Homo sapiens: one gene and its partners. The protein of the gene in region 1 purifies or fractionates together with the protein of each later gene. This does not show direct contact. Each region holds a gene or a part of one and is shown in the gene's direction. Other genes may lie near its edges. The genes, in order: CHRM5, KIAA0232 and TRIM26.

What was found.
Region 2: the proteins of CHRM5 (region 1) and KIAA0232 purify together in Homo sapiens (affinity purification with mass spectrometry; one large-scale study listed by BioGRID and IntAct). This does not show direct contact.
Region 3: the proteins of CHRM5 (region 1) and TRIM26 purify together in Homo sapiens (affinity purification with mass spectrometry; one large-scale study listed by BioGRID and IntAct). This does not show direct contact.

Annotation. Positions count from the first base shown.
Region 1 is NC_000015.10:34,065,227-34,068,116, forward strand, and holds the end of CHRM5 (muscarinic acetylcholine receptor M5), read left to right. Parts: 3' UTR 1-745; coding exon of another isoform or gene 746-787; 3' UTR 788-2,232; downstream 2,233-2,890. UniProt on the Homo sapiens protein: The muscarinic acetylcholine receptor mediates various cellular responses, including inhibition of adenylate cyclase, breakdown of phosphoinositides and modulation of potassium channels through the action of G proteins.
Region 2 is NC_000004.12:6,785,727-6,789,385, forward strand, and holds part of KIAA0232 (uncharacterized protein KIAA0232), read left to right. Parts: intron 1-3,659.
Region 3 is NC_000006.12:30,186,647-30,189,531, reverse strand, and holds part of TRIM26 (tripartite motif-containing protein 26), read left to right. Parts: coding exon 1-114; intron 115-332; coding exon 333-365; intron 366-2,885.

The DNA of each region.
Region 1 (2,890 bases):
CTGGCTGAAGATTTTCTCCAGGCTGTTGAATTAAGGTTCTTATATTGTTTTCAGAGATCTTGCTTTCTAATCTCTTCACAGGGCAAACCTGAGCAAAATGTGGAAAACAGATTTGCTTTTGAATTTCTTCCAGAGCCCTTTTGCAGCCTCCAATTTCCCTTGTTCAGATCCCCAGTTCACACCAAGACGCAAGCAGGTCAGCTGTGCTGCCTCCAAGCAGGGGGTTGTGGGGTGAGGTGGGGGTAGAAAGTCTTTTTTTATAGGTCCTTCAAATCAGGGCCTAAAAATGACTTCTTTATTCCTCTCCAAATTCGGTCACAAATGAGAAGGCCAGAAAAGCACACTTGAGGGTGCGATGAAGCTGAAAATGATCTGAAAGCTTCATTTTTAAAAACAAAGTGTAGGTCATAGTAATACATAAAAATAAAACAGTTGACATGCATGACAGCATGAGGATTATTAAAAACCACACTTAATTGAAATCTCTAAGTGCGTATAAACAAACGGAATCAAAGGACCTTTGTGGACAAAAGTCCACAAAGAAGCAGTAGTGTGGTACACAGCAAGGATTTTAAAGATGAAGCACTCCTGTCAGACATTATTTAACTCGTTGGTTACATCTGCAGCTGGACTTAAAAATCACCAGACTTCATGCGTCTTAGTGTAGGCCGGGTCCTTTTCAGTCTCATTTGCTAAGAGGATGGAAAATTAGCTGGTTTAGTTGTCCTGGGAATTAGATATGTACCTGAGTATGGGAGAGCTTCAGCCTACCACTGAAGAGCATCATCAGCCTCTCACAGGATGTCCCACGGAGGCTTCAGGGTAGTAGAATCTCAGGCAGGACGGGACTGGTCCCTTATAAAGACTTCACGTTGACATGAAACATCTTGTAAGCAGTGCATCTGCTGAGCCTTTGTAAAGGGCAGGTTGACACCTGCAAAGAATTCGGTGGGAACAGTAATTGGCTCAGTTCTCCAGCACAGAGGCTTTCGGGCCTCCGTGATGCCAACTGGGTGTGACTTCATGAGCAAACCTGCTCTACCAGCGCCAGATAAACAGTTGAGTCTTCGTTTAAGGCTTTGATTCCTGATAAAGATGAAAACCCCTTCATGAGAATAGGCTTTTAAGCCCATGTTGGGCATTCACCATTCGCAGTTGAGAGTGAAACAAGCTAATTTAAACAAAAGAACACAAATCGGGAAAGGATGCCATGGAGGGCACTCCTCGCACACTCCGCACTTGCTTAGGACTTGGCCTTTTTTGTTCATCTTTTGTGAAATTGATTAAGAAGTGTATTGCTGGGTGTGGTGGCTGACACCTGTAATCCCAGCACTTTGGGAGGCTGAGGCAAGAGGACTGCTTGACCCTAGGGGCTCAAGACCAGCCTGGCAACATAGGGAGACCCTGTCTCTACAAAAAAAATTTTAAATACCTGGGCATTAGCAGGGCATCGTAGTGTGTGCCTGTAGACCCAGCTACTTCAGAGGTTGAAGCAGGAGGATCGCATGAGCCCAGGAGTTAGAGGTTGCAGTGAGCTATGATCACACTACTGCATTCCAGTCTAAGTGACAGAGCAAGACCCTGCCTCAAAAAAAAAAAGAGAGAGAGAGAGGTCAATGCTTCTTTTTTTATCATTGGTTTTGGAAAGCAGCCAGTTTTGCAGACTACCTATGCCTCTTGACATAGACAAAAAATATCCCAAACTACTAGGGACAACTAGACTTCTATAGAATAGCGGCTTTAGTGGGGTCCTCAGAATGAATAGACCTAATTGTAAACTACAGGGACCTGATGGGTGGGTGGGAGGCGCATGGCCTGACTTGAGATCTTAGGCCTTCTATGCCCCCAGTCTTCCAGGCTTTGTCTATAGTAAACCATGTATGACTTTGGCTAGTTACCTACTGGATGCTGTTACTTTGCTATCATTGTAATTTGTTTCCCCTTGGCTGTGAATTTGATGACTTGTCAGGGAATCTGTTTTCCATTCAATTTTTGGTTGAACAAAGCATTTTGTCAATATTCTCAGCTTTTGCTTCGCTCCTTTGGTGAATGTCCTTTGAAGACAATACTGATGCCAGCTCTTTGTAATTGTGAAATCTGTACCCAAACCTCTGGATTAGAATCTCCAGTTGTCTACTGTAAATACTGGAATTACAGCAAAGGATATGGGGACTGGGCTGCTTTTCTGTATTGTATAAGCACTATTCTAGATATTAAAGAAATTTAACCGCACAGTGGTCCAATGCAGAGCATTTAAATAAGAAAATTGTTTCAGAGTAGCCTATTAGATCCATCTATATTGGGTTTCCCACACACCTTTGCATGGCCTGGCCTTTCAAGAAAGTTGGGATTGATACACAGTATGGATACACGTCCTTCTTGCTACCTTTTGTGATTCCTCCTTCCCTCTAAGTTACCAATGACCAAACTAAGATTAAATAATGATGACAAGAGATCTGTGAGTAAAACGCTTTCCCTTCCCTATGGGACAAGGGAGGTGGGGCAGACCTGAAACCACAGTCCTTTACCGAGTGGAGACTGCACAAAAAGGGGCAGCAGCATTTCCTTGTCAACTATTTAAAGAGTCGGTGCCCCACTCCATTCCCATTGTAAGTGATACTAATTTCCATCTTCCCCACATCATTTTACTGGTAAAGTTCAAGATTATGTAAACTCTTGCCCAATAAAGACCCCAGATCGAGAGTGAGCGGAAGAAGGGAAAAAAGTTTAATTGTCAAAGAAGAAGCTGGAAGCAATTAAAAACAAAACAAAACTTTTTTGAAATCATTTAAAATTTACAGAAAAGTTGCAAGAGTAATAAGAAGAACTCCTAATGTCCTTCACCCACATTCCGCACTTAACGTTTTGCCACATCTGTGCCTGCTCTCTC
Region 2 (3,659 bases), on another chromosome or scaffold:
TGGTTTGGAGCTTAGAATTCAGAGATACCAGCATCACAATGCAGGCCCCTTGCAGTCTGGCCCCCAGTCATCTCTGTACTTTATCTTGTCCTCTTTGTCCCCTTTCCACACTGTCCAGCTAAACAAGACTGCTCTTGGTTCTCTGAACATGCCAAGCTATTTCAGACCTTCTTTGCTTATATTCTTTTCTCTTATTGGAATGTCCTGTCTCACTCCCACTCCCTCCAGTTCTTAAAAGTTCATATCAAATATTCTGTTCTCTCTGGAGTCCTTTGGAAGTCCTATTACAATGAATTATTCCTTTCCTCAATCATAGTTCTCTATTTTTCCTTCATTATTGTCTATATCATGTTGTATTATAAATTGGTCATAGTAAACTCTGGCTGTGGTGTCTATCCTATCATTTTGCCCCCAACACCTTGCTCAGGCGTTTAAACATAAGTGCTTAATGTTAAATGTAAGTGTTTAAATGTTTGCTAAATAAAGTCAAAGTCTGTAATCAACCTTAAAGAGTATGTTAATATTATAAAGTATATTTATTTTTATTTTTTCTGACCCTGGCTTAAGTCTGCAAATAAAGTTTGTTTGTTTTTGAGACAGCATCTTGCTTTGTCACCCAGGCTTGGAGTGCGGTGGTGTGATCGTGGCTCACTGTAGCCTCAACCTCCCAGGCTCAAGTGATCCTCCCACCTCAGCCTCCTGAGTAGCTGGGACCACGGGCATGCACCACCATGCTCAGCTAATTAAAACAATTTGTTTTTTTGTAGAAACGGGTCTCCCTGTGTTGCCCAGGCTGATCTCGAACTCCTGGGCTCAAGCAATCCTCCCACCTCAACCTCCCAAAGTGCTGGGATTACAAGCATGAGCCACCGCACAAGACCCAGATGAAGTATTTTTAATAAACATCGGTGCCCACAACAACATTAGAAATGTAGTTTTACTATGTTGAATATAGTTACTATTTAGAATATTTCTTTACAGTTATTTTTGGTCTTTCACATAATCACATAAGTGGTATTTTATACAAAGTAAAAACTGTCATCTTTCCCATTTGTATCTAAACTTGTAGGGTCTAATGAAATAGATGAAGTGCCTGCATTGCTGACTGTGAATCACCGACCCATTTTTTGGGCAGAGGGAACCAGAGCACAAGGTTAAAAATATTCCTTGTATTGGCCGGGCGCGGTGGCTCACGCCTGTAATTCCAGCACCTTGGGAGGCCGAGGCGGGCGGATCATGAGGTCAAGAGAGTGAGACCATCCTGGCCAACATGGTGAAACCCCATCTCTACTAAAAATACAAAAATTATCCGGGCATGGTGGAGCACGCCTATAGTCCCAGCTACTTGGGAGGCTGAGGCAGTAGAATCTCTTGAACCCGGGAGGTGGAGGTTGCAGTGAACCAAGATCACACCACTGGACTCCAGCCTGGCGACAGAGCAAGGCTCTCTCAAAAAAAAAAAAAAAAAAAAAAAATCCTTATATTTGAAGTATAATTTAATTCCCAAGAGATTACATGCTTTTTCTTTAAAAGTTTTCTTTTTTAGAAATTTATTATATGCATCAAAAGCAATTGCGTTTGAGGGGGCTTCTTAAAAGAATATTAGAACTGGATTTGAAAGACTCAGGTTTGCTTCTTGGCCGTGAACAAGTTTGTTAAATCCCTTTGGAAGTCAGTCAGTCTTTATTTGGGAACTGAGAACGGTTATTCCTGTTGCTTTGTAGTACATTTAAAGAGGCTATGCTTTGTGTACTGCACATCCTTACACAGATACAAGGTAATCAGATGTTTTGCTTTATAGCATTTTTGTCCTACTTGTTACCCAGCCTGGAAACCTTTAGAGACTTCCTTTCTTGACCAGATTTTTACCAGGTTTGCCTCCATGAGTCTTTTCCATCAGTCTTTTTCTTTACTCTTTCATGTTTCCTCTGCCCCTACCCTCCCTGAAGCTCTTACTCCTTATGAAGATAGTTACTGTAGTCCTCCAACTGGCCTCTCTTTTTTCTGGTCTCTCCTCCTCTGTTCTGTTGCCAGAATTATTTAATAGGCAAATCAAATCATATCATGACCCATTTCCCAAGTATACACCAGAGGTTCTCAACATTTCCCTCTATTCCATCACACCTGAGGGATACGACAGTTTTGTTGGTAAGGTTATGGGCTTTCTCCTCCCAAGATTTTTACCTTGGAAGTGCTACCACACTCCTCCCCTGGTTGAGAATTAATGTTAAAGAGTTAGGAAATCACTGTAAGATCTTTGCTATCTAGCCTCATTCTTACTTTTAGCTTAATCTTTTATTGGATCTCTTCTTTTTCGTTTTTGTGTTTTTGAGACAGGGTCTTACTCTGTCACTCATGCTGGAGTGCAGCGGTGCCATCTTGGCTCACTGCAACTTCCACCTCCCTTCCTCCTGCTGCCTTGGCCTCCTGAGTAGCTGGGACTACAGGCACATAACGCCTGGCTAATTTTTTGTAGAGATGGGGTTTTGCTCTGTTGCCTAGACTGGCTTCAAACTCCTGGGCTCAAGTAATCTGCCCGCCTTGGCCTCCGAAAGTGCCGAGATTATAAGCACGAGCCACCACGCCCAGCCTGCATCTCTTCTTGTCACCTTATATTTCAACACAAGACCTCTGGCCACTTCCGTTATTGGCAGACTACTCTGAAATATCCTTTCCACCTTTCTCTCTCTTTCTGAGTCTTGGAGTCTTGGCTTAAATGCTGCTACTTCTATTTCTGTAACCTGATTTTCAGAATTAACTCATTATTTTTCTCCCACACAGTGCTAGCCTGATACCTCTACTTATCTATTTTTTCCTTATGACTTTTTAGTTTATATACATGAAGGTCTTTCCTGGATTATAAACTCCTTGAGAGATGTAGAGGAAAATCTTAATCATTTCTGATTTCCTCTAGTGTGCAATATAGTCTTTTACATAGTACTCATTTGTTAAATGTTTGACTGAATTAACTCAAAATTTACAGTCTCTGATTTCAGGAGGAGGAGGATAGAGTTGGAATAACTTTGTATGAGAACTTAGTGAATCCACGTGACACACTCAGAACAGGGCCCAGCATATAGTAAGTGCTCAGTAAGTGGCAGCTTTTAGCTATTAATTTGAATAGGTGGAGACGACACTAGTGGTTGGATACACTGGTTAATTGTATATGCTAGTTTATTATGACAGTGTTCACATATTTATTTCTGGTGTGTGTGTAAAGAAAAAAATCTCATTTTCTTTCTTTTTTTTTTATTTTTATTTTGAGACAGAATCTCGCTCTGTCGCCCAGGCTCGAGTGCAGTGGCGCGATCTCGGCTCACTGCCAACTCCACCTCCTGGGTTCACGCCATTCTCCTGCCTCAGCTTCCCGAGTAGCTGGGACTACAGGCGCCCGACCACAACGCCCGGCTAATTTTTTGTATTTTTAGTAGAGACTGGGTTTCACCGTGTTAGCCAGGATGGTTTTTATCTCCTGACCTCGTGGTCTGCCCGCTTTGGCCTCCCAAAGTGCTGGGATTACAGGACTGAGCCACCATGCCCGGCCTTTTCTTTTTTTTTTTTTCCCGAGACTGAGTTTTACTCTGTCACCCAGGTTGGAGTATAGTGGCGTGATCTTGGCTTACTGCAACCTCTGTCTCGTGGGTTCAAGTGATTCTCCT
Region 3 (2,885 bases), on another chromosome or scaffold:
ATCCACGGAAGAAGTTCTGGGTTGGGAAACCCATTGCTCGAGTGGTTAAAAAAAAGACCGGAGAATTCTCAGATAAACTCCTCTCTCTGCAACGAGGCCTGAGGGAATTCCAGGGTAAGGGTTGGGGAGCGCACAAAGGGTGGGAGTCAGAGCAGGGCTACCTCGTAGAAAGAGCGCACCCAGCTCCTTTCCATCACCTTGTCGATCCTCACTCTTCTGAGGGCCTCTTGTCTTAGACATGGATCCCTATCAGGAAATTGATACTGCCCGAGCAAGAAATGGGCTCATAAATTTTCGGGACTTGAGTCATTGCTGTCCTTTTTTCTCCCCAGGGAAGCTGCTGAGAGACTTGGAATATAAGACAGGTGAGTGTCTAGAGGGTGTTTCCCAGATGTACATCAAATATAGAAAACTCCGCCTGCAGAGATTCTGACTGCTCACTTTTCCCCCAGGTAGCCCCTTTTGCAACAGGAAGAATTTCCCAGCTGCACAATAGAAGCCCCCCTCCCTCTTTGCACTTTCTAATCAGCCTACTCTTTAGTCTGCAGTAGAGGCCTCTGCTTGCTAGTCTGATCCTTCTCTGCCCTGTGTTTGCTTTTCTTTTTCCTATCCTCACAGGTCCTACCACCAGTCCTTTTCCTGTGGCCGAGCTTTCTCTCATCTTCCTGGCTGCATGGCTCCTATATTCAGAGCAAACAGCAGGGGCAACCTAAGACCAGAGGCCATATCCACCACAGGCCCCACTATTGTGCCCCCTCTCAGCCCTGCAGTTAGGTTGTACACTGCATACCAACCACCAAGGAGCGCCATCCACATAGACCAAGATGTGAATGGTGCCCCTTGGATTGTGAAGACTGGTGGTCTCCTCCTGGCTCACTTTCACACTTGCTTTCGTGAGAACCATTGAGGAGGTCGGCCTGTCTGGGAGCAAACGAGGCCCTGAGAGCTTCATCTAGTTCACAGGATAAAATCCCATAGCAGAACTGAGTTAGCAGTGGTTAAACCTTAGGTGGTTGTAGCTTCTTTATTAATGTCTGAGCTGTCTGTGAATACCGTCAAATTTTACCTATCAGGTTATTCTAATTATAGAGAATCCTATGAGGATGATGGTGAGGATTATCCCACTCTGTCAGTACCTGTTCAGGGTTTCTTGAACCATCTTACAGAGCAGGCTGGTAGTTTTGAAACTGAAATTGAACAGTTTACAGAGACCCTGAATGCTTGTGTTACAACAGATGATGCTTTGCAAGAACTTGTGGAACTCAGAGGCCACATCTGTCCCAAATTTCTTTTTTTTTTTTTTTTTTTTTTTTTGAGACGGAGTCTCGCTGTCGCCCAGGCTGGAGTGCAGTGGCGCAATCTCGGCTCACTGCAGGCTCCGCCTCCTGGGGTTCACGCCATTCTCCTGCCTCAGCCTCCCGAGTAGCTAGGACTACAGGCGCCCGCCACCTCGCCCGGCTAATTTTTTGTATTTTTAGTAGAGACGGGGTTTCACCGTGTTAGCCAGGATGGTCTCGATCTCCTGACCTCGTGATCCACCCGCCTCGGCCTCCCAAAGTGCTGGGATTACAGGCGTGAGCCACCGCGCCCGGCCTTTTTTTTTTTTTTTTTTTTGAGATGGAGTCTTGCTTTGTCTTCCAGGCTGGAGTGTAGTGGTGTGATCTCAGCTCACTGCGAGCCCCGCCTCCCAGGTTCACGCCATTCTCCTGCCTCAGCCTCCTAAGTAGCTGGGACTACAGGTGCCCACCACCATGCCCGGCTAATTTTTGTATTTTTAGTAGAGATGGGGTTTCACCATGTTAGCCAGGATGGTCTCGATCTCCTGACCTTGTGATCCACCCGCCTCGGCCTTCCAAAGTGCTGGGATTATAGGCGTGAGCCACCGTGCCCAGCCCCAAATTTCTCTTACATGGGAGCTCACCTGTGTAATTACCTGACATCATCTGACAGTTAGCACAGAGAGTAGCACCTTCCGCCAATTTCTACTTCAAAGATGTCGGACTGAATATGACATTAAAGATCAAGCTGCAAAAGGGGATGAAGTTACTCCAAAACAATTTCATGCATTTGTACCCTTTCTGGGAGAGCTTTATCATAACCTGGAGATCAGAGGAACAAATGGACAGGTTACAAGGGCAGATATTCTTCAGGTTGGTCTTCAGGAGTTGCCGAATGCCTGAATGCCCTCTTTTCTAATCCCGTGGATGACAGCTTAATTTGTGCAATAAAATTGCTGAAGTTGACAGGGTCAGTTTTGGAAGATTCTTGGAAGGAAAAGGAAGGACTGATATGGAAGAAATTATTCAGGAAATTGAAAATGTTGTTATAGATGCAAGCTGTGGCAGAGACATGAAACAGATGCTCTTGAAGCTTGTAGAACCCCAGTGCAGTAATTGGGGTAGAGTCCATGCAACTTCATCATACAGAAATACAACAGCCAAAAAAGATCCCAATTACTATGTGAATGAACCAACATTTTATAGTGGTCATTCACATAGTTATTGTGTTTCATAGTGTTCCTTTCACTGCAGCTGATCCGGATTACCAAGAAGCATATCAAGAGTTACTTGAAAAAGAGGACTTTTTTTCTGGATTATGAAGAAAATGGAACAGATTTTTCAGGGACTGGTGATCCACACTTGGATGATATTAATGATGAGTTGGACCCAGAGATCCAGAGATAGAGGAAGCTTATGAAAAGTTTTGTTTGGAATCAGAGCGTAAGCGAAAACAGTCAAGTTAAATTTCAGTATATCATGTTTATAAAGCAGTTTAGTTATGGTGATTTAGCAGAATACAAAGCCAGAAAATGTGTCACACTTATACCAAATTAAGGATGTTGAGTTATATTACTAATGTATGCAACTTTAATTTTGTTTAACGCT